Homo sapiens: one gene and its partners. The protein of the gene in region 1 interacts with the protein of each later gene in a biochemical or structural test. Each region holds a gene or a part of one and is shown in the gene's direction. Other genes may lie near its edges. The genes, in order: NCK2, PKN2, DOCK1, SYNPO, NTRK2, TLK1 and MET.

Region 1 (3,500 bases):
ATGCAGAGGCTTTCCTCCTTCCCAAAAGGTTTGTTATCTTTAAATTTGGAAGTTAATTCATGAAAGAAACGTGTATTATTTATAAAAAAATTTTTTTAGCATCTAGTAGAAAATATGTTATTTAAAAATGGTATTTATGCTTCCATGGAGTCAATGTGCATAGGTCCCCTGTAATCCTAAAGTCATCCCTATACAATAATGAGAACTTCTCTGTCAGGGAGGAAGGGGATTTTAGTCCTGAGTGTTTTCATCATTCATTTCTCCCTAGTTTGGAGAAATGTCTAGTTAGTTTAAGGACTGAATATTGAATTTTTCTGCTTAAAGAATATTGGTTCATCTTCTACCTAAGAAGTAGAGAGTTGCTAAAATAGTTGATTATTTATTTTATTTATTCAGCCACACTTTTGCTATTTATTACTTCCAAAATTGACTTTACTGGATATATAATACACGCATCTATTTATTGTTGTTTTGATAAACTTTTCATTTTGGAAAAATGTTATGTTCACTTTTGATGTTGCACATTTTATAGATTTTAACAAATGTATAATGACAGGTGTCCGCCATTATAGTATTGAGCAGAGTAGTTTCACAGCCTTAAAAATCCTGTGCTTCACCCTTGCATCCCTCCCTTCCCTCTTGCCCCAGGCAAGCACTTATTTTCTTACTGTCTCCATAGATTTGTCTTTTCCAGTATGTCATACCGTTTTAAAGAAAAAACTTATTCATGACATTTGTTGAAGAACAGTAAGGCAGATTTTATTCAGAGGGACTACTACAGTAGGGTTTTGCAGTCAAGAAAGAGATTGGGTTTGACTCCTAATATTAAGACAACAAGGAAGAGTGGGCATTTATAGGCAAGGAGCAAAATAAGGGAGTTGGTGGGTGGAAAATTACTAAGAGGAAACATCAGGGGTGGAGCGTGGGGATTCTGGCTAAACTGACCGAACAGGATTCTTCTGAAGGCAGGACAGGGTGATCAGCTGTCACCTGGGGGATGGTAGAGGATGAGGAACCTGATCAGATGTTGAGAGTGGAGGATTCCAGCTAGAGCACCTTAGCAGGAGAGTCTTGCAAAAATTGGGCAATGCAGAGATGGACACGGAAGTGCAAAAGTTGAGGCCTTAAAGGGAAGAAGATTCAAAGGAATTTGGCTGAAGTTTGGTTAAGGATAAACTGTCAGAATCACACAGTGTGTAGCCTTTTCAGATTGGCTTCTTTCACCTAGCAATATGCGTTTAAGGTTCCGCTATGTCTTTTCATGGCTTGATAGCTCATTTCTTTTTGGTACTGAATAATATTTCATTGTCTGGATATACCACAGTTTATGTATCTATAAACTGTGTCCTACTAAAGGACATTTTGCTTGCTTCCAAATTTGAGCAATTATGAATAAAGCTGCTACAGACGTCTCTGCACAGGTTTTTGTGTGAATGAAAGTTTTGGGGAATAATTTTATATTTATAAAAAAGTTCCCAGTATAGTACAGAACTTTCCCTTATACCCTTTACCTGGTTTCTCATTGTGTTAACATCTTATGTGAATGCAGTAACATCTTACTGGTGTGTTGTCCAAACTAAGAGATTGACAATTATTTATTGTTATTATTATTCTTAGACTTTATTTTGATTTCACCAGTATTTCCATTAATTTTCTTTTTCTGTTTCATGATCCAATCCAGGATACCACCTTGTTATTAGTACAATGTTAATTTTAATTTATAGGAGTAGTTTGGTTATGTTGACTTATTAAATATGTTTATAAGACACAGCATATCCTGAGAAAATGAGTGTCAACCTAACAGTTATCAGGAGGCAGTGTTACTTAATGAAATGGACTCATTTAATTATAATGTTATTTAGAATTTTTTTCAAGTTTGTTTTTGTTAGAGGGTCAGATTTCCCCATGTACAGCAAACAGTAACATAAGATTTGTTTTATAAGGTTGCTGTTTCTAAACCAAATACTAAAGCTTGTTGAAAGAAGGTCATTTTAAAGTTGAGCATTTCAAGACCCAGGAGAAAACTGGTTGCAGAGTTGTAATAAAAGCTGTCAGTGCCTAATTTTTCAAGTTGGTGCAAAGGATGAAGTGTCCGGGTAGTTCTCTAATGAGCATCTCCAAATGTTTTGCTGGCAGAAGGACTCCATGAAAGATGACAGAAGAAGTTATTGTGATAGCCAAGTGGGACTACACCGCCCAGCAGGACCAGGAGCTGGACATCAAGAAGAACGAGCGGCTGTGGTTGCTGGACGACTCCAAGACGTGGTGGCGGGTGAGGAACGCGGCCAACAGGACGGGCTATGTACCGTCCAACTACGTGGAGCGGAAGAACAGCCTGAAGAAGGGCTCCCTCGTGAAGAACCTGAAGGACACACTAGGTGAGTGTTTCACCCTCGAGAGAGGAAGCCTTGTGCATTTCAAGGGACACTGTTCGTCTTTCTAGTTAGTTTGCTGTTTCAAAAAAAAAAAAGTCTGTTTTAAAAGTTAATATCTTCCTAGTTGTCTTTTTTAATAATCTAAGAATTAAGAGATGAAGATGGAGAAAGAGGATGTTTTTCATTTCCTGGAGATTCTGGAGTTTGGGGTCCTGTGTATGGAGACACTTTGTGTGCTTGGGACCCCTGCACAGGTATCTCCTTGTATCAAAACGTTAGAGGAGCCTGACTTGGAATTCTCACCTCTAAGTCTACCCAGCTCTGCCAGTGTCGTGACATGAAGTTCTTTCTCTCTTATACAATCCTGTCCATTTGGCCTACGTGCCTAGAGCAGGGGACAGCCAAAGCACTTTTTCCCTCTCTGAAATGGATGCTACATCACACCACAGTCCTGGGTGCCGTTAGCTAAGAGGGCAGCTTTGTGACATCAGAGGCCGCTCCATGGTGGGGGCCTAGTTCAGCCATACTGTTGTCCCCATGTGCCTCTTTTTTTTTTTTTTTTTTTTGAGACGGAGTCTCACACTCTTGCCCAGGCTGGAGTGCAGTGGCACGATCTTGCCTCACTGCAAGCTCCACCTCCTGGGTTCACACCATTCTCCTGCCTCAGCCTCCCGAGTAGCTGGGACTACAGGCACCCACCACCACATCCGGCTAATTTTTTGTATTTTTAGTAGAGATGGGGTTTCACTGTGTTAGCCAGGATGATCTCGATCTCTTGACCTTGTGATCCGCCCACCTTGGCCTCCCAAAGTGCTGGGATTACAGGCGTGAGCCACCGTGCCCGGCTCCCCATGTGCCTCTTGTTTTCCCAGGTGTTGTCAGGTTATGGGCAGTGCCCTCCTGGAGTTACACAAAGTTAACAGTATCCAGTCTTGCCTTTACATGCACACGGAACTGACTTACAGTATTTACTGCCTCAGATTACCTGAGAAAATAATTGCGAGGACTTTTTTGAAGAATGACTCATCTGAGCTGACATTTAAAACGTTGTTACCTTCTTATGAGTATAATGTTGTCTGTATCCAAGACTGCAGGTTATCACTTAAGGGTTTGCTAGTGAAATGA
Region 2 (3,500 bases), on another chromosome or scaffold:
GGCTGAGTATCCCTTATCCAAAATGCTTAGAATGAGAAATGTTTTGAATTTCAGATTTATTTGGATTTTGGAATATTTGCATATATAAATAATGACATATCTTGAGGCCAAGACCCAAGTCTAAACACAAAATTTATATATGTTTCATATATACCTTATACATAGCCTGAAGGTAAATTTATATAATATTTTTAATAATTTTGTGCATGAAACTAATCTTAAGTACTTGCGGAATTCTCTATGGCATCATGTTGGTGCCCAAAAAGTTTCAGATTTTGAAGCATTTTAGATTTTGGATTTTTGGATTAGGGATGTTCAACCTGTACTCTCCCTTCCCTCCCCTTCCCTTCCCTTCCCTTCCCTTCCCTCCCCTCTTCTCCCCTCCCCTCCCGTCCCCTCCTCTCTCTCTCTCTATATATAATATATATTGAGATATATATATGTTTTTTGTTTGTTTGTTTTTTGAGACAGAGTTTTGCTCTTGTCACCCAGGCTGGAGTGCAATGACACAATCTCAGCTCACTGCAGCCTCCGTCTCCCAAGTTCAAGCAGTTCTCCTGCCTCAACCTCCCGAGTAGCTGAGATTACAGGCGGGAGCCACCATGCCCGGCTAATTTTTGTTTTTGTTTTTTTTGTAGAGACGGGTTTCATCATGTTGGCCAGGCTGGTCTTGAACTCCTGACCTCAGGTGATCCACCCGCCTCGGCCTCCCAAAGTGCCGTGATTACAAGCATGAGCCACTGCACACGGCCCTATCTCTCTGTATTATATGACACATTTGGTCAGCTTCTGATTATCCAAGGGTTTGCTTTTTGGTATTTTTGAAACTTATTTTTTTTAGAATGTTGATTTTATAATGAAGTAAATAAACTTATTTAAGATTGAATTGGAAAGATAATGGAACTTCACAATCAGTTCATTTTGTTATAATTTCTTAGCTCCCTTGTAATGACAAGAAGAAAAAGTAACTGAAAAGAAACATGGATATCTTATTTCTATTTACCCATTAATTAGACAGTATAGTTGCTATTGCAGTTTTTGCTATACCAGTCCTTACTGTTTTCTTGAAATGTCTTAGATATGTCTGAATTTGTTCACCATGCACAAATGTGCAACTTTAATTTTGCCTCCCAAAGATAGCTTTGATTTTTTTTTTATGCTAGATTTGTTTTCTTTGCTAACAAATGTTTACATTTTATCTTTTCCAGGAATGGGATATGGAGATAGAACAAGCACATTTTGTGGCACTCCTGAATTTCTTGCCCCAGAAGTATTAACAGAAACTTCTTATACAAGGGCTGTAGATTGGTGGGGCCTTGGCGTGCTTATATATGAAATGCTTGTTGGTGAGGTAAGCAGTGTGAAATAGGTAAGAGAACAGAGGAAGGATGATTGAAATAATAAAGCATGTCATTTATAAAACCACCTAATACTGTCTTCAGTATGAGTGGAATTTAAGTTTTATAAATATTTATAGTATACTAGTAGTCAGCTATCTTTCTGTAATACCTTCAATAAAGATTTTTATGTGGTTTGTGGAATGCACTATCAGTGCTTTGAAAATAGTTCCTTGTATTTCAGTATTGTACTTTTATTATGTTTTCTGATTTTAAGACATAGTCATTTTATAGGGAATGGAATAACAGAAAGACTAATAAAAGGAATGTACTCTGTACCTGTAAAGAAAAGCCCACTATAGATTGGTCAGAAATAAATGTTACCTTCGACTTCCTCCAGACTTCCGTCTGAGCAACACACTCTGCATCCTTGCTTCACCGGGAAACTACTGAAGTTCCTGGGGAAGCAAAGTAGAATTTCGTAAGAACAAAATGGATGGAGAGAGGAGAAAACCTATGGTAGCTGTGAAGGCCCTGATGCCATGTATGTCAAATTGATATCATCCGATGGCCATGAATTTATTGTAAAAACAGAACGTACATTAACATCAGCACGATAAAAGCCATGTTGAGTGGCCCAGGTCAATTTGCTGAGAATGAAACCAATGAGGTCAATTTGAGAGAGATACCTTCACATGTGCTATCAAAAGTATTCGCTACACCAACAGCTCCACCGAGATTCCTGAATTCCCAGTTGCACCTGAAGTTGCTATAGAACTGCTGATGGCTGTGAACTTCCTAGATTGTTAAATAAAATATAATTTTAAAAAAATGAAAGAAGTGTTACCTTAAAAAATGGTAGAGTTGAAAAAATTCGCATTTTTTCCTACTGTTTTCTGTAGATTAACTTAAATTTCTGAGGATAATTGAGTTGTACATAGAAATTATTACTATTAGGAAACAGTGAGTTATGTTAAGGCAATAATAGGAGACTAATAATTTATTATGTTATAAATTGTTAGAAATGTTGAATTGGGATGAAATTGGGAAAGAGTAAATCTTTTAATAAGTAATTGAAGATTACTTGAAGGGACTTGAACTGGAGATGCAAGAAAAATTATTTTAAGGGATTGGTTCATTATTCTGCAGTTTCCCCATGCCAGCAACCTCCCTTGTACACTTGTAAGTTTGAAGAAGTTAGTGCTGAATGAACAAATTATCAAATTGAATATCAGAAATTTCTAAAGTTTTGTTCTATGCTTGTCATTTATTGGCACTTACCCCAAACAAATGGTTTTAGTTTCGCCGGATGGATAACCCCTTTTGGTATGTCAATTTGAAGTGGATTCCTTGGAAAAGGAGGAGAAGTATGGCTAATTAAAATTTATCATGTGCTAAGCACTGTACTGTATGCCTTAAATATTAGTTCATTTAATTTTGCAACAGCCTTTAATAAGCTCAGTACTGATCTTCTGCCCATTTTCGGAGGTGTAAATAGAGACACAAAGAGATTAATGACTTGCTTAAAGTCACACAGCTCTCATATGGTGGAGCTGGAATTTTAACCTTGTCACTCTGGCTCCAGAGCATATCTAAAGCATTATGCTTTGCTGCTCCAGGACAGGATCTTCAATTCATCCAGCCTTGTTTCTGTTCTTAAGACTAGTGGTCCAGATCTGAATTTTTCACCTCTATTTAGAAAAGCTGTTGTGCAGTGTTTAGGTTGGAAAGATTTATTTTAGCTCCAGTCCACAGTGGCTTTTACTTTCTGAGAGTGCCAGAAGTTCTCATAAAATAGTTAATCTGCTGTAAGCTCTGGCATACTTGAACTCCTCCCCACCCCCTTCCTTTATTTTAACAGTAACATTTTGGAGGGTTTTTTTGGTTTTGTTTCATGTAGTATTCAAGTAAGTATGAGATTTATGAGATTCAATTATGTGCTTGCTTAAAATTTACTCTCCATATTAGAGATGACATGTGCAAAATATGAGTTTATTACAAAATACTGTAGAATTAATCCAGTTGAATCTACTCCCTCCTATTATAAAGCCACTGGAGGGTTTGGCAGAAAACAAGGAAGCTCCTGTTTCATGTTTTTTAAAAGAGCTAATTGATTGAGCTCTTAATTACCTAGAAGATAAAAGACAGTGGATCTGGCTATTT
Region 3 (2,794 bases), on another chromosome or scaffold:
GGCCGATGTCCCACCCCCTCTGCCTCTCAAAGGCAGCGTGGCAGATTACGGGAATTTGATGGAAAACCAGGACTTGCTGGGCTCGCCAACACCTCCACCTCCCCCTCCACACCAGAGGGTAAGTCGGCAATCTGAAACACAGGCTTTCATTGCTTCGCCTCCACAAAGTAGGACGAGTCCCTCATTCCAGATACTAGCAGGTTTACTTCGGGCTAGTGAGCACATGAGGAAAACCATGTATGATGGGCCCGGGTTTGATTTTGCAAAAAGATATCGAAGCAGTAAGGACTCCAGTGGGTAAGATCTGTGGCTCTGCGTCATTATCAATAACTGCATCAAAAAGCACATTTTGATATCATGCCTCAGAACGAGGAAGAGGATAGACATTCCAAGGTTGTCATCGGTTATCATCACCATGGAGATCATTCCACTGGAGATGCAATTCTAATGACATTTTGATTTTTGAGAAGTAGCTTTTCTATCAAGAGGTCTGACTTTTTAAAGAGGTTGGCCAATATCGCCCTGTATGGCAGGCACCTGTTGTACACCTGCTTGGCCCTGGAGAAGCTTGTCTCCAAACATCCCTCCAGGCAGCCTCACCTGGTGCTGGGAGCTCCTGGGTGGTGACAGGCACTCACCTTACGGAGACTGCAGAGGACAGCCAGGTTTGGCTCCTGGGCACAGTCATCCTCACTGTGCCCCCACCCCTGGGCACCCTCCCCAGTGCTAGTTCGGGGGTGCTGACCTGGCTTCCTCCAGCAGCACTGGCCTTTGTAAGCCTAAGCAACCTGCTGGAACCCCTCTTCAGCGTGAGTCCCTGAAGCTGGTACCCCCCAGCAGCTGTTTTAGTCATTCATGCCACCCAAAGTGCCTTGTGCCAAACAGCCCCTGGGCCTGCCTGCCCGTACAAATATTAGTCAAAGTCATGAAAAGCCATTTAAACAAGCACCTCAGTTACCAGTTGACAGTTCTAGAAACATTCTTTTGAGATCCACCCCGTTCCTCTCCTGGTTCTCAAGGATGCTGTCAGGCGTCACTCATCCCTGCGGGTCCCAGCCCCATCCTCATGTCGGGCCCAGGCATGTGTGGAGGGCAGCATGAGTGGGATGGAGGCGGGCGAGCGATTGACTCAGCCACGGCGGGAACTTCTGCTTCTAGGCTCAGGCCTCCCCAGGCCATGTTATTCACAGCCTTTGACAATTAAATCAGTGGTGTCTGAAGGGTAAAATATCCCTCTTCATATGTGGACAGCTGGCCGTATTTTTTTTGCTATCCAGCCTTAGTGAAGTAATTATATGGCCGCAAAACTCCTGTAGAACATTGAAAACATGAGATTGTTGGGTGGCTCTGTTTTTTTCATAATGGTGAGACATGGTTTTTTTTTTTATTTTTCTTTAATAAACAATATAAATCCCACGTGCCATTTCTTTTTCTTTTTTTTTAATGGAGACTCGTTGACGGAGTGTTCCACAAGGTCATTACATCCCTTATGAGAGGAGTGGAAGAGAGAGGGTGTTTGTGTACAGCATACGTATTTCATCATTCCCTTTGTATCAGAAAACTAAACAAGCAGTCATCTTTAATATCAAAGAGGCAGATTGCTCTTCTGAGACCCAAGTGCCATTTAAACAGGCTCCCTCTCCCTAGAGACGCCTCGATGGGGAACCGGTCCTGGAGGAGGCACCAGGTTCCCCTGTGAAGAGGGCTTTCTGGCAGGCTGGAATGGTTTGTTGCACCACAGAAATGGAAGCCGGACCTTCCCCGGCCATTTCTAACTACTTGTGAGAGTAAAAGGAGATTCGGGGGGGTCTAACAAGAATATTGGGTTGCTTGGAGTATTGTTTCCCTAACAGCTTCGTTAATTGGTCACATTCTCTTCTCTCTATTTTATTGCAAAGGCAGGAATGTTCCCCCTAGTCTCCCTACACTAGTAAACTGAAAATTCTAAACTTAGAATTACAGCCAATTCCTCTTCTTGTTACAAATCAACTCCGGGGTAACATTTTATTGTCTCAATTTCTTGGATACACCATTGTGGGTTACTGATGCCACATACAGTTGATTAAGTAAGGGATAACATGGATTAGCTCTCTCTCAATTGATAAAGGGCGTGTGAATTCAATTAGATTAATGACCCAGGTGTCTTTGGTCTTTGTTTCTTGTTTAATTTACTTGCAGCCTGAGTGCATGCTCAGGTGACACGCTGGTGGTTAGTATGTCATCATTAGGCAGAAGCGGTTGCATTTCCTGGGGTGCCTCCCTTTGCACAGGCCCTGAGAGCTGTTCTAGGATAATGATCATCCATCTGCCATGATGGGGGTGTGATCAATATCCTCCTGTCACTCTCATTGATCAGCCTCAGGCTTGTAGGCAACTCTGTCTTTAGTTGTTGCCACTAAGCTGTCATTTCTTTCCAAATGGCTCTTCCTGTCAGTAATCTGAGCTTACTGAGTTTATCACCATTAATCATTTTGCTTAATGGTGATAAACTTTTGACATGCTCATACTTGGCATAGAGGTCATTTGCAGCGCTGTGTTGGTATCAGGCTGTGTTAGTGTGGTCCTTACCTGCTCCTCATTGGCCTATCAGTGAGTGTGGCTTTCACATGTAAACAAACAGTTTCATCAGACCTCAAAATAGATGTCTCTTTTAACGGTTCTAACCAACCTTAAAAAGACTTAATTGTTGTTTTACCTTCCTTAATATAAGGTCATACACTCATAGGACATCTTTATATCAGCTTTACTTTTCCACATTTATTCTCCTCTCTGTGTTAAGCATTAGGTCATTTTT
Region 4 (3,500 bases), on another chromosome or scaffold:
TTGAACCTGGGAGGCGGAGGTTGCAGTGAGCCGAGATTGCGCCGCTGCGCTCTAGCCTGGGCGACAAGAGCAAAAACTCCTTCTCAAAAAAAAAAAAAAAAAGTCAGGCAAGGTCATTGCCCCTTGGAGCTATGCTGTAGGTGAGGAGACAGATAATAGACAGGGAAACATAAAGATCATTTCAACTTGGTGAATGCTATGGAGAAAACAAAACAGATGGGATAGGAGAAGGAAAGGTGCCTCCAGAGAGGGGACATTCCAGCTGAGACTTGAGTGGCAAGATAGGAACCAGCATGGACTGCTACCTGGGAAAAGATTATTCCAAGGAGAGCGAGCAGCAAGTCCAAAGGCCCTGGGGCAGGAACATACTTGGCATTTTCAAGGAAGAGAAAGCAAGCCAGTGTGGCAGAGCCTAGTGAGAGAGGAGAAGGCAGTGGGGAGGAACTGGGGACACGGTGGGACTTCTAGGGTGAGGTGTTCGTACTCAGTTTGGTAAAGTGCCATATCAGCAACTGTCAGGGGGATTCCAAATCAGGGACCAGTTAATCCTGAGAGGATAATCAGGGTGGCGTAGACGTGGTGGCATTTGAGTTGGGCCATGAAAGGTAGGTCAGGGCTGATTACGAAGTGAGCTAATTCTAAGAAACAGTGAGTGACGATTAAATTCCAGAAGAGATCCTGTGTAGGAAGGGCCGAGGCGACCATCTCTGTCTGCCTGTTTGTCCGTGCACCCCTGTGTCACTGCATTCCTGTTTGCTAACTGGGCTTTTGTCCCTCCCTGTAGCGTTGGGCCGGAGCACTAGCCTCACGGAGAAGGATCTGAAAGAAGCCAAGGCGCGGAGCCAGCAGATTGCAGCCCAGCTGACCACCCCTCCCAGCTCCAATTCCCGTGGCGTCCAGCTCTTCAACAGGCGCCGGCAGAGGGTGAACGAGTTCACCTTGGAGAGCCACGGCCAGAGGGGACAGAAGCCCAGCCAGGAGTCCCTCAGAGTGCTCCCTTCAAGCCTCCCAGGCCATGCACCGGGGCTCAGCCTGAGTTCCACCTCGCTGCCGGAGCCAGGCCCTCCACGGCACCCCAGTCCCCAGAGCCCCGACAGAGGGGTCCCTGGCCACAGCATGGAGGGGTACTCAGAGGAGGCTAGCTTGCTGCGGCACCTGGAGAAGGTGGCCAGTGAGGAGGAAGAGGTACCACTGGTGGTTTATCTAAAGGAGAATGCAGCACTGCTGACAGCCAATGGGCTGCACCTGTCCCAAAACCGAGAGGCCCAGCAGTCCTCACCGGCCCCACCTCCAGCTGAGGTCCACAGCCCAGCTGCAGATGTCAACCAAAACCTTGCCTCGCCCAGTGCCACGCTCACCACACCAACTTCTAACAGCAGCCACAATCCGCCAGCCACCGATGTCAATCAGAACCCACCGGCAACTGTTGTCCCACAGAGCCTGCCACTTTCTAGCATCCAACAGAATTCCTCAGAGGCCCAACTCCCATCTAATGGCACAGGGCCTGCTTCCAAACCCAGCACCCTGTGTGCTGATGGGCAACCCCAGGCACCGGCTGAGGAGGTGAGATGCAGCACACTCCTAATTGACAAGGTATCAACTCCAGCTACCACCACCAGCACCTTCTCCAGAGAAGCTACGCTCATCCCCAGCTCCAGGCCCCCAGCCTCAGATTTCATGTCCAGCTCCCTGCTCATTGACATCCAGCCCAACACCCTAGTGGTGTCAGCAGATCAAGAGATGTCTGGGCGAGCAGCTGCCACCACGCCCACCAAGGTCTACAGTGAGGTCCACTTCACACTGGCCAAGCCCCCATCAGTGGTCAACAGGACGGCCAGGCCTTTTGGGATCCAGGCGCCAGGGGGCACCAGCCAGATGGAGAGGAGCCCCATGCTAGAGAGACGACATTTTGGGGAGAAGGCCCCGGCTCCCCAGCCCCCCAGTTTGCCAGACAGGAGCCCCCGGCCACAGAGACACATAATGTCCCGCAGCCCCATGGTGGAAAGGAGGATGATGGGGCAGCGAAGCCCGGCCTCAGAGAGACGCCCCTTGGGGAACTTCACTGCACCCCCCACCTACACTGAGACCTTGTCCACAGCCCCTCTGGCTTCCTGGGTGAGGTCTCCTCCCTCATATTCTGTCCTGTATCCCAGCTCCGACCCCAAGTCTTCTCATCTGAAGGGCCAGGCGGTTCCTGCCAGCAAGACGGGCATTCTGGAGGAGTCGATGGCCCGCCGGGGCAGCCGCAAATCCATGTTTACTTTCGTGGAGAAGCCCAAGGTGACCCCGAATCCAGACTTGCTGGATCTGGTACAGACAGCGGATGAGAAGCGGCGGCAGAGGGACCAGGGGGAGGTAGGCGTGGAGGAGGAGCCCTTCGCACTGGGGGCCGAGGCCTCCAACTTCCAGCAGGAGCCAGCACCTCGTGACAGGGCCAGCCCCGCGGCGGCGGAGGAGGTGGTACCAGAGTGGGCCTCCTGCCTCAAGTCACCCCGCATCCAGGCCAAGCCGAAGCCCAAACCCAACCAGAACCTCTCCGAGGCCTCTGGGAAGGGAGCTGAGCTCTACGCCCGCCGCCAGTCACGGATGGAGAAATATGTCATCGAGTCTTCAAGCCACACGCCAGAGCTGGCCCGCTGCCCATCACCTACCATGTCCCTGCCTTCCTCCTGGAAATACCCCACTAACGCCCCCGGGGCCTTCCGAGTGGCATCCCGAAGCCCAGCCCGGACCCCGCCTGCCTCCCTCTACCATGGCTACCTGCCTGAGAACGGGGTCCTGCGCCCAGAGCCCACCAAGCAGCCGCCATACCAGCTGCGCCCCTCGCTCTTTGTCCTCTCACCTATCAAGGAGCCTGCCAAGGTCTCACCAAGAGCTGCCTCGCCCGCCAAGCCCAGCTCCTTGGACCTGGTGCCCAACCTGCCCAAGGGGGCTCTCCCTCCATCTCCTGCCCTGCCTCGGCCCTCGCGCTCCTCACCGGGCCTCTACACCTCCCCCGGCCAGGACAGCCTGCAGCCCACTGCCGTGAGCCCTCCTTACGGCGGTGACATCTCCCCCGTGTCTCCCTCCAGGGCGTGGTCTCCCCGAGCCAAGCAGGCCCCCAGGCCCTCCTTCTCTACCCGGAACGCCGGGATCGAGGCTCAGGTGTGGAAGCCTTCCTTCTGCTTCAAGTAACGAACCCCACGGGGGTCCCACTGCCGGTCAAGTTCCCCTCCTTGAGGGCCAGATGGAGAGCAGATGTGGCAGGAAATGGCACAGAGCTGAGTGAGGAGAATGGGGAGTCCATGGTTCAAGGTCAGATGCGGCCACCAGCTGGCTTTGTGACCTTGGGCGAGTCGCCTCCCCTCTCTGAGCTGAAGCCGCCCCTCCCCTACTACAACAGGGGTCGGACTCCATGTCTGAGCGGGGAGGAGGGTCATGGAGAGAGAACTGTCTGGCAGCCCTGATGCGGTAGAGGGGCATCCTCTGGCCTTTGTGAGCTGTAGGGATGCAGAGTCTGA
Region 5 (3,500 bases), on another chromosome or scaffold:
TGAAGTGGTGGGACTTGAGCTTGCCTTCATAAAGGAGACCTTTGGGAAGTAGGGAGAAAGGGAAGAAGATCAAACTTTCTAAGAGGCATGAGTAACTTGGCCCTGGGTAGGAAGCCACCTAAGCTTGCTGGCTGAACACAGAGTGTGTGTGGAGACTGGAGAAAGCAGAAAAGCAGAGTGGTCCATCCTAATGAATACAGGATGTCCAATGGGGAAAGGTTTGGTATGTGGCTTTAGGTAAACTACTTAAACTGACTGACTTTTAGGGGCATTACTTGCACTATCCAGGCAAGTCCATGTCTGCTGTAGAGCATAACTGTTGGGTTCAAGTGAGATAATTGAATAGAAATTCTTCGTAAATGTTGAAGACTGAGTGTTGATGGATGATTACGGTGGCACTGAGGTGGTGGGTGATTCCGGAACCACGGCGTTTTTGTGCTGGAAGTAACCAAGGGCTGCCCTAACTCTTCACATTTTACCAATAAAGACAGAAGCCAGACCTGAGGGTACCTGCTCAAGCTGGTTAATAGCAGCAGCACAAGAACTAGAACTCCAGTCTCTTGGGTTGAGGAAAATAAAAATTGCAAGTCCAAGTCAACTCTCCAGATAACTGGGTTTCTCATCTTGCACCAGGTCAACCTGGTGAGTTTAGTGAAGACCATGAGACCCCATTCAACTTAATTACTGGAGAGCCCCTGAGGCCCCACAGCATATCAGGCTGAGAGCAGGAATTCTGACTCTCAGTGTCATTCCTGGGATCACATTCCATCTCACAAATATTTAAGCAAGGGCATGAGGGCAAGTTGCCAAGTAGTACGATACAAAACAAATGTCTCATTGTGTTTGTTGCTGCACAGTGTGTTGTTTGTGTGGTCCAAAAACCATCAAGTGACTATAACTAGAATGTGACAGTAATTTGTAACAACAGTGACTTTTTTGGGGGGAGGGTCTACTTTTGTGACATGCTTCAAAATTCTGAGAAAGGGTTGCAAAAGAAATGTTCAGAAATGTACTAAATGGGCTTAGAAAACTTGTGAACCCTGTCTGAACTTTTATTAGATTGTCCCACCACTCACCCATTTGACATCTGAACAAGGAAAGCATTATTTATAACAGCATGCGTGAAATCCCAGAAGGGATTCTTGAAAGAATTAGAGTGAAAAATCTGCCCCAAAGAGACAGCAAGCAGAAAATAAATGATCAGATGAGAAAACATGTAAATCAAAACGTGAATCTTTTGTTCTCTCTCTCTTCTTTAAAGGAAACAGAAGCTTTTTCTTGGCTATTAGCAATTCAGGATAGAGAACCAGTATCAGGTTTTCTATCTTGCATTGCTAATGACCAAAAAAAGTGGGTGCTGCTATCAAAGGAGCCACTTGGTTAAGGCCAAATGAAGAGTTCAGGAGAGTGACATATGATGATTCTTCTTAATGTCTCCAGAATGGCTGCTTCTGGAGTAAGTAAGAGAGTGAAGGTTCCAGAGAAGAAAGCCACACCTCAAAAGCATTAATACTTTAAGACTTAGAAAACACTTTCACAAATGCCTGCTTGAGTAAATACCTCCCAACAACATTAGGAGGTATACATTATTACTTACATATAATTATTAAACCTTGGCCACAGAGAGATTTGGCAACTAGTCCAGGTTACCCCAGTAGGAAACAGGTAAGTGAGCGATTGGAAACCAGCTATTGTCATCCACTGCATTGCAGCTGTGAATATCCAGGTAGATATGGAAATCCTGAGATCTTGCTAGATTAACACACCTCAAAGTGTATTTTTAGCTGTCTTACCTGAGACATATATAAATGGTTATCTCTCCCACAAACATACATTCAAATAGTTTAATTTACCAAAGTTAAGTTTGTTCTTTCCTGCCAAACTCCTCACATACTTTAATAAGCCTCAGTCCCTGATGGATCTCCTTGAATTGAAGAGGGTTGCAATTTACAGTACATTTGACATATTTGATCTAGGAACTTCTGGGGTTGTTAAAATAACACAACTCAGACAGCATAACAAGAAGACCAGGTCCCAGTCTTTATTTTAAGATTCCTACTTCTCTAAGCCCACTTTGACCACTGGGGTTCTATTTTATCTAACGAGAAAGAACAGCAACACCAAAATGCACAGTGGAGCTGGTTGCACCATAGCACTATGCTGACATGAACAATGATGAAATGAGCTCTTCTTTATAGGGTAGGAAGAAGGTTAAAATGAGAGAGGTAAGGTTAAAAATAAGATGTATAGCAGAAGGGATTATTTTTCCCTTTGATTTCATCTTACCCATTTTTTTTTGCATGTTAGGTAAGCAAAACAATGCCATGTTTGTATCTTAAGAGGTTCCCATAAAATGCTTGCTGTGTGGATGAAAATGGTCTGTTAAAATGTGTAGACCTCTGTCCTATCTGCACCACCCAGGCAAGGTCACATAATTGCCAGGAGCAATTTCATCATCTGTAGGCTAGAGGTGCCACCAAGAGTCCTGAGTTCTTTATGGTTTGCTCACACAATTAAATGACACCAGACGTGTATAGATGTTTTCTAAACCATATGGTACATTCCAATTATGGCTTCAGAGAATGGCAAGGAGACTAGAGATGCTTTATTCTAGGGGTTAACAATCTTTGAAAATGTGTGTGCCAAAGTGCCCAGCCTTTTCTGGCACATAAACAGAAGGGTCATTTGCCCACCTCTGCAAGGTGGCAGCAGCATCCCTGCATGGCCCAAAGCAGTCCTCTCCTTGGCATTGCCATGTGGGCTGCCCAGACCTGGTGAGATCATTCTACCCTCATACCGCAAGTCCTCCAAAGCATCTGGAAACAACAGGTCCTCTGTGTATGTCAGCAGATTCCCTCTCCCAAAGTCCTGGGCACCTGGGGGTCACAGAGTTATAAACAGGGCAGATATTTGCCAAACCAGAAATGTGCTGAAATAGCTGCACCCATATTTACTACCCACATCCTTTCTGGTTGGTCAGTGTCTGTGCCACACTGATTGCAGTTTGAGTATCGACCCTGAGGGTGACTGTTGCCACCACCTTCAGACATCAAGTAAGACCATAAGAGAAGTCTCTGTCCATTGAACACTGATGACCTGTCACTGCTGAAGGAAGAGTGAGGAAATCTAAGGCCAATGGAAGCCAACTTAGCCTTTATGAGCTTTTTGTTTATTAAAAACTGAATAGTAGAGATGGGTCACCTGAGCCAGAAGTTTTTGTCCCTATTTGTCAAATTTGGATGCATCATACAGAGAAGAATGAAATAAAATATCCTCCCCCTTTTGTACTCTTGTGCTTTCTTTGGTGCTAAGAACATCACTGGGAATCACCAAGCATGTTAGACATCTCTGACATTTCAGCCTCTTGGGTTCTGGGGTAGGGGAACATTTTCCAGACACTATTAGTTTATTTTCTTCCTTTAATAAATACTAACTGGATATTGAGATTAGAATTGGGCAGAAACTCTATGCACCATTACTCTATAAACTCAGGACCCAGA
Region 6 (3,500 bases), about 65 Mb from region 1:
AAACTTCTCTTTTGCCTCAGATATAATAACTGATTTATCAGTTAAACTGAACATGTGGCTTTAGCGTTTCTGAGGTAAACTCTATTTATTATTTATTTATTTTAATTTCAACTTTTATTTTAGTTTCAGGGAATATATATGCAGGTTGTTACAGGGGTATATTGCTTGATACTGAGGTTCGGGGTACAATTGAACCCACCACTCAGGTAGTGAGCATAGTACCCAGTAGTTTTTCAATCCTTGCCCCTGTCTCTGCCTCCTTCATCTTTGTAGCCCCCAGTTTCTATCATTCTCATCTTTATGTCCATGTGTCTCCAATGTTTAGCTCCCACTTATACATGAGAACATGCGGTGTTTGGTTTTCTGTTACTTTTCAGATCAAACTTTTAAACAGAGGAATTATAGTTACCATATTTTCTTGAGTTCAGATGGTGGTAGAAAAGGATTTATTGGCTGTTTATGTGTTAAGGAGTGCTAAATATGCTACTCCGTTTTTGGTGGAAAATTTTTTTAAACCTGAAAATGGGGAGTAATGCCAGCATGAACATCAGCTTTTCCAGAGTATCCAGTTATTTGAAATAGAGGCAGAACTTACTTTCACATGGTATCACACCAACATTGCTGTTCAAACACTGCCTCCTAGGACTTGCCACAGAATGGCCTTCTCTCTCAGCAGATTTATTCAACTTTTCTTCAACATATCTGTGCTAGTTATACCACAGTGAAACAAAGGATAATGTCCTTGTGATATTAGAGAGTTTGGGTTTCAATTCTGCAGATAATGGGACTTGTTAAAGGTTTACATATAGTGTACGTGATCGGAATGATATCTACAGTGATAGTTGTAGAATAATAACTGATGGTAATGTGAAAATATTATTAGAGGATGAATGTTATTGGTAGTTAAGATGGAGGGGTATCCAGATGAAAGGTGATTAAAGCATGAACTAACATATCAACAGTAAAGTGGAAAGCAGGAGAAGATAATTTTTTAGTGTTTATGAGCAAGAGGCTCTGCTACTAAACCCAGACCGGCAATTGTCCTGCAATGAATAAAAGAGACAGTTATATAATTAATATGAATGTTCTGAAATATAAATTCTACTAGTAGTTCCAATTTCTCCTCTTAACTGTCAGAAAAGAGGCCACAGGTGCAGTGGCTCACGCCTGTAATCCCAGCACTTTGGGAGGCCGAGTTGGGAGGATCACCTGAGGTTGAGAGTTTGATACCAACCTGGCCAGCAGGGTGAAACCCTGTCTCTACTGAAAATACAAAAATTAGCCAGGCATGGTGGTGGGCGCCTGTAATCCCAGCTACTCGGGAGGCTGAGGCACGAGAATTGCTTGAACCTGGGAGGTGGAGGCTGCAGTGAGCCGAGATCATGCCACTGCACTCCAGCCTGGGCGACAGAGTGAGAGTCTGTCTCAAAAAATAATGTCAAAAAAGAAAATAATTACTTGTATGTCCTGACTTTCACTAATAAGCATTTATTGAGGACCTACTGTGTGTATATCAAGCCGTTTATAATTGGTGATATAATCCAGAGTGGTTAGAAGATGAGAAGAGAAATAAATAAAAGTAATAATATTAATCTCTAAACTGTATAGTCATCCCTGAGTAATCAGCTATTAATATCTATTCCAGTAATTCTTTACTTTCCATTAATATTTTAATCATTAGGATTATTATTGCTTATTTGCATTTATACCATCTTGATTGTGCCCTAAAATAGCCTTAAGATTTACTTATTAAAAATTGAAATTTATTCCTGCTTCTAAATGAAAACCGGATTAAAGTCTTGTTCTCACTTTGCTATTCTTGAGATTTTTCTCTACCCTTTCAATCTTCTACCTAGATTCTTCTTGATTTTTTTCACTCCTATCATATTCTGCTACTTTATCACTAAAACCATAGGGAAGGGGATGTGTGTAAGGTCAATTCTGCATTAGCAAAGTAGGAGCCCTTTAGTTGATGTCAGTGGTTGGGGAGAGGAGGGCATGAAATATTTGACTTGCTCTAAGTATTGTAACCATGTAGGATTTGAAAATTTTTTATTGGCATAGTGAGGTGACCTGAAAGAGAACATGGTTACTGTTAGAATAAGCTTAAGGTGTTGTATGATAAGTTGGTTTTAAAAAGCTTCACTGTTAACTACTTTATGCTCTGCTCAAACTGCTAAAATATCTAATCTACATTTTAATAATAGACATGGTATCTATTCGTTTTTAGAATTAGGGAGCTATTTGCAAAATTGTTTCAGTTTCTTGAATGGGAAGCATTGATTTTATTTTTGTTACTTTCCCATTTTTCAGAGCCATGCTAATTTTTCTTGCTATTTTCTTGTCTTTTTCCCCTTAAATTATCAAAAAAATTTTTCTCATAAATTTCTTATATTAAGGTTAATTTGTCTCATTTCAAAACACCAACTTCCCATTACCAATTTTTTTTAACAAAAGTAGATTTAGAAAATAACTCTCTTCACATTAAATTCATATTTGCCTTTTGTAAATTTGTTTGCAAATACTGTGGTGAGATGCATGTGTAACATATACCCCATACTTTAATAGTTTGGGGTATTGTTTTATCTCATTTCATTCAAGAAACATTTACTGAGCAAAGGTAAGTGATGATCACTACACTAGGTACTAGGGATACAACAGTATAAATACTGTATAAATAGACACCATCTGTGTTCTTAGGGAGTGATGTCATCTAACCGGACACTTTCTGATAAAGTATCTATAGGAATAATATTTATTAGAAAGAGTGAGGTGGGGAGATAGAAGATCCCATGAAATTATATATGGCAACACATCTTTCCCTAATCTAGGGGTTTAGAGAATACCTCACTTAAAAAAATTCTTTCAAATGAGACCTGAAGGATAAGTACAAATTGGTTCACAAGAGTGGAACCAAAAGGTTACGAATGTATATTTTATGGTTTTTCATGTTTTTTATGCATTTTTTCCAAGTTTAGCCTTGAAAAGTAATGGAAGGTTAATATGGTTTTATTTGTTTATTTTTACACAGGCAACAAGAATGGGTGAATCAGCAAAGGGAAGATATTGAAAGGCAAAGGAAACTTCTAGCCAAACGCAAACCTCCCACAGCTAATAATTCTCAGGCACCCTCTACCAATTCTGAACCAAAACAAAGGAAAAACAAAGCAGTCAATGGAGCAGAGAATGATCCCTTTGTTAGACCAAATTTACCACAACTGTAAGCCTCCATTTAAAATTTTTCTTTTTTAAAATTGTTGCCAGTGAGCGTGAATGTTACTAATGGATGTTATTTATAATTAATACTTAGATAGCAAAAATGATTAAGACCAGGAAGGAAGGCAGTATTGAAAATTTAGCTCTAAATTAATAGCCCCAAATATCTGAATTCTACCGTTTTAAGCAGAGATTTAACAATTCTCTTTTAAAACAGAGACCTAGGTAGCTAAGAGGTTACCAGAATTCACCCTTCTGTGTCTGAATCAGTTAGGAATCAATTA
Region 7 (3,500 bases), on another chromosome or scaffold:
TGAAGAGAGAGAAAGGTGACATGGCCTAGGTGAAGAGAAGAGGCCAGAAATGGGAGTTTCTCAACCATTTATGCGACAAGTCTTCAGGTGTTGTCTGAGTAGATTTGCAAGAGTAGCACTAGTTGGGATCACTTCATCCTTGGAGTCTTCAAATGTAGAGTCTCCAAAGGCTTTTTCTACAGAAATCAGTAAACAGCTCAGCATGGATCCTCTCTTTTAAATTCACTTTCTAAACCTCAGAAATGTAGTGAGGCAGCTGAATCACGTGTTTGAGACTTTTTTAGATGAGTTAAAATTTATATTCAGCTTATATTTACTGGCACTGCAATATATGGGCTGTATCTCACTGAACCATCCCCACGGTCCTGGGAGGGAGCAGTATCATTCCTATAATATAAAAGAGGTACCTGAAGTTCAGAGAGATGAAGTGTGGCTTCACAGAGGTAATCCAGAGAGTAAGAGCTGAACAAGCCTTCAGCTCAGCTCTGATCATCTTCTGATCCAAGACCCGTGCTAGTTCTACTGTATTCTACATGTACCCTTCTACAAGCTTTGAATTCCATAATCATCAGAGAATCCAGAAATTATTCATTATCACATAATAACAACACTCAAATATTTAAAGTTTTATGGTTGAATCTTTATGATTGAACCCATTCTATCAGGTGGTTATTTTATATCTAATAGAATTCATTTCAGGGTTACACAAAGGTCCGAATCTATCCATTTTACTGAGACCAAAACACTAATGAAGGTAATATTTGTTAGCTGAATGGCAAAACAAATTTTTTCTAGAAATCTCCCTTGTAAAATCTCCAAAACTCTTAATCATTGCATATAAATCAGGACCTGTAAAAGTAAAGCATAATTCATTCTCTCCTTTAAAAAGTTATTTAATAAATCAAATTGTATTTAAATTTTCTCAGAACTATATGATTATTCATTCAGAAATAATTCTATGGAAAGCCATCACAATTTCATTATCATTTAAGTAATTTAAATAAGCATGTACAAGTATAACCACAGAAATGTACCTGTTGACATACTTTAATGAAGAGATTGGCCTATTTGTAGTTAGCCCATTGTTTCATATGCATCTGAAGTGGACCAAAGATTATCCCCAAATATTAATATTATCCAAACTTAGATTATTATGCACTATTCAACTGGTGAGGTCTTTATGGATAAGGTCTGATATTTCCTGTTTGTCTGTATAAGTGCTATAGTACCATTAATGTAAAGTTTAGTATAAGCAGGGTGCAGTGGCTTACGCCTGTGATCCCAGCACTTTGGCAGACCAAGGCAGGAGGATCACCTGAGCCCAGGAATTCAAGACCAGCCTGGGCAACGTAGTGAGACTCCATCTCTACCAAAAAAAAAAAAAAATTTTTTTTTAATTAACCAGATGCCGTGGCATGCACCTCTAGTTCCAACTCCTGAGTCCAGAGGATCCCTTGAGCCCAGGAGTTCAAGGCTGCAGTGAGCTATGACTATGCCACTGCCCTCCAGCCTGGGTGACAGAGCAAGATCCTGTCTCTTTTTACATAAAAATAAAAGTTAAGTTTATCATAGTATAGAAATAGGATTATATAATTTTTGGCCTTAATGCTTATCTTGAAACTCTGCTTGCTATTCAAAGCAGTCAGCTCACCATTTAGAGTTAATGTCACTTCCTATAAAACAACCTAACCAGAAAATTCCTTGGATTTGTCATGTATTAAACTTTGGGTTTTTTTTCCAGATTGAAATGCACAGTTGGTCCTGCCATGAATAAGCATTTCAATATGTCCATAATTATTTCAAATGGCCACGGGACAACACAATACAGTACATTCTCCTATGTGGTAAGGAAGATTCTATCCTATCATGTTTGATTTTTACTTAATCTATTTAAATTATAAGATGAACAAGTTACTTTGTTTTGTTTTTATCTCCCCTCCAGGATCCTGTAATAACAAGTATTTCGCCGAAATACGGTCCTATGGCTGGTGGCACTTTACTTACTTTAACTGGAAATTACCTAAACAGTGGGAATTCTAGACACATTTCAATTGGTGGAAAAACATGTACTTTAAAAAGGTGTTGTAAATTTATTTTTTGTTGCATCTGTCAATTTGAATTAATATCTGTACCTTAAAAATTAAGCAGATTGTTTTGTGTGTGTGTGTGGAGAAGAAAAATCAAGATGTTTATTTGTTTACTCTCCTACTGACAAAACTTCCTCCTTCCAAAATTCATCTACTCCTTTTGCTGATTTTTCTTCCTTTCTCTTGTTTTTTAGCAATCCTACTTTTCAGTTTTGTCTTCCCATCCACCCTCTTTATTGTTATAGCTTAGGATCTTAGCTATACTATGAGCTGTGAGAGTCTGGTCATTGATAATAATTTAAAATAAACATTTTCATCAAGATTTGTAATTAGACTAAGTCACTCTGGGGAAGGAAGAAATGGGGAAAATTGGGTCTGGAAGACAGTTATGTTTCTGCTTCTTAGAGTTGGAAGAGCTCAGTTTAATCAAGTACCAAAAGTACTTTAAAGGTTTTTTTTTCAAATCTCAAATGTTTTCCAGTCAAGGATAGCTTGTCCACAACAAAGGTAAGTTTGAGATCCAGTCAGATTAAACAGCCTACACTAGAAAAGGCTTCCACTCAGGAAATTCCCACTTAGGAACCATTGAGTTATATCCTTTTGATTTGTGGATATAATTCTAAAATATGTGTATCTCTAATAGCTAAAATTCACTTCCTTAATTTTTTTTGTTCAGTGTGTCAAACAGTATTCTTGAATGTTATACCCCAGCCCAAACCATTTCAACTGAGTTTGCTGTTAAATTGAAAATTGACTTAGCCAACCGAGAGACAAGCATCTTCAGTTACCGTGAAGATCCCATTGTCTATGAAATTCATCCAACCAAATCTTTTATTAGGTAAGTAGAAGCTTCTGATGGGTATAAGAAAACAATGAATACAAGGATGATTTTGCTGTAGAATAGTCAAGAGGAATTGCAGTTTTATCTCTGGCTTTGATGCTGTTATGTTGCTTTTGAAGGCTTCTTTCCAATTCAGGAGAGAAAACTATATTCAGGTTCTGAGTGTAGTTTGACTTATCAATGCTAGTTCATTCCAAGAAGTATCTTATCCTGTTCTATTACATTTAAACAGAGTATAGCAAAATAGTTTAATGTGGCATTGTAGTATACATGCACTTACATTATGTACATATCAATTCTATACTAACCTTAGTGCCCAGAAGTGGAATTACCTTTTTTCTTCCATTCTCTAGATATGTTTTTGTCCTGCCTGCTTTACACACAGCTTTTCTTTATGCCAGACTCTCTTTGAATTGATATCTCATTGGACCCAGTTCAATCTGCCTTGTTTCCGTTAATTCTATCAGTCTAGCAACAATAGTTAAGTTCGGTTTTCTTTGTATTTTTTTCAGAGGTGAAATATTTATTTTGTGTAATTCGGTGAATAAAATACAAATGCATTTCTTAAGCTT

The links.
Region 2: the proteins of NCK2 (region 1) and PKN2 interact in a biophysical measurement, tested with the Homo sapiens proteins (one study listed by IntAct).
Region 3: the proteins of NCK2 (region 1) and DOCK1 form a complex in vitro, tested with the Homo sapiens proteins (one study listed by BioGRID and IntAct).
Region 4: the proteins of NCK2 (region 1) and SYNPO form a complex in vitro, tested with the Homo sapiens proteins (one study listed by BioGRID).
Region 5: the proteins of NCK2 (region 1) and NTRK2 form a complex in vitro, tested with the Homo sapiens proteins (one study listed by BioGRID).
Region 6: the proteins of NCK2 (region 1) and TLK1 form a complex in vitro, tested with the Homo sapiens proteins (one large-scale study listed by BioGRID).
Region 7: the proteins of NCK2 (region 1) and MET form a complex in vitro, tested with the Homo sapiens proteins (one large-scale study listed by BioGRID and IntAct).

What each region holds. Positions count from the first base shown.
Region 1 is NC_000002.12:105,852,912-105,856,411, forward strand, and holds part of NCK2 (cytoplasmic protein NCK2), read left to right. Parts: intron 1-2,136; 5' UTR 2,137-2,152; coding exon 2,153-2,378; intron 2,379-3,500. UniProt on the Homo sapiens protein: Adapter protein which associates with tyrosine-phosphorylated growth factor receptors or their cellular substrates. Maintains low levels of EIF2S1 phosphorylation by promoting its dephosphorylation by PP1.
Region 2 is NC_000001.11:88,827,273-88,830,772, forward strand, and holds part of PKN2 (serine/threonine-protein kinase N2), read left to right. Parts: intron 1-1,208; coding exon 1,209-1,351; intron 1,352-3,500. UniProt on the Homo sapiens protein: PKC-related serine/threonine-protein kinase and Rho/Rac effector protein that participates in specific signal transduction responses in the cell.
Region 3 is NC_000010.11:127,447,428-127,450,221, forward strand, and holds part of DOCK1 (dedicator of cytokinesis protein 1), read left to right. Parts: coding exon 1-118; intron 119-2,794. UniProt on the Homo sapiens protein: Involved in cytoskeletal rearrangements required for phagocytosis of apoptotic cells and cell motility. Along with DOCK1, mediates CRK/CRKL regulation of epithelial and endothelial cell spreading and migration on type IV collagen.
Region 4 is NC_000005.10:150,647,160-150,650,659, forward strand, and holds part of SYNPO (synaptopodin), read left to right. Parts: intron 1-784; coding exon of another isoform or gene 785-1,116; coding exon 1,117-3,144; coding exon of another isoform or gene 3,145-3,174; exon of another isoform or gene 3,175-3,500. UniProt on the Homo sapiens protein: Actin-associated protein that may play a role in modulating actin-based shape and motility of dendritic spines and renal podocyte foot processes.
Region 5 is NC_000009.12:85,015,729-85,019,228, forward strand, and holds part of NTRK2 (BDNF/NT-3 growth factors receptor isoform a precursor), read left to right. Parts: intron 1-3,500. UniProt on the Homo sapiens protein: Receptor tyrosine kinase involved in the development and the maturation of the central and the peripheral nervous systems through regulation of neuron survival, proliferation, migration, differentiation, and synapse formation and plasticity.
Region 6 is NC_000002.12:171,045,894-171,049,393, reverse strand, and holds part of TLK1 (serine/threonine-protein kinase tousled-like 1), read left to right. Parts: intron 1-3,031; coding exon 3,032-3,220; intron 3,221-3,500. UniProt on the Homo sapiens protein: Rapidly and transiently inhibited by phosphorylation following the generation of DNA double-stranded breaks during S-phase. This is cell cycle checkpoint and ATM-pathway dependent and appears to regulate processes involved in chromatin assembly.
Region 7 is NC_000007.14:116,755,696-116,759,195, forward strand, and holds part of MET (hepatocyte growth factor receptor isoform b preproprotein), read left to right. Parts: intron 1-1,741; coding exon 1,742-1,844; intron 1,845-1,942; coding exon 1,943-2,079; intron 2,080-2,763; coding exon 2,764-2,925; intron 2,926-3,500. UniProt on the Homo sapiens protein: Receptor tyrosine kinase that transduces signals from the extracellular matrix into the cytoplasm by binding to hepatocyte growth factor/HGF ligand. Regulates many physiological processes including proliferation, scattering, morphogenesis and survival.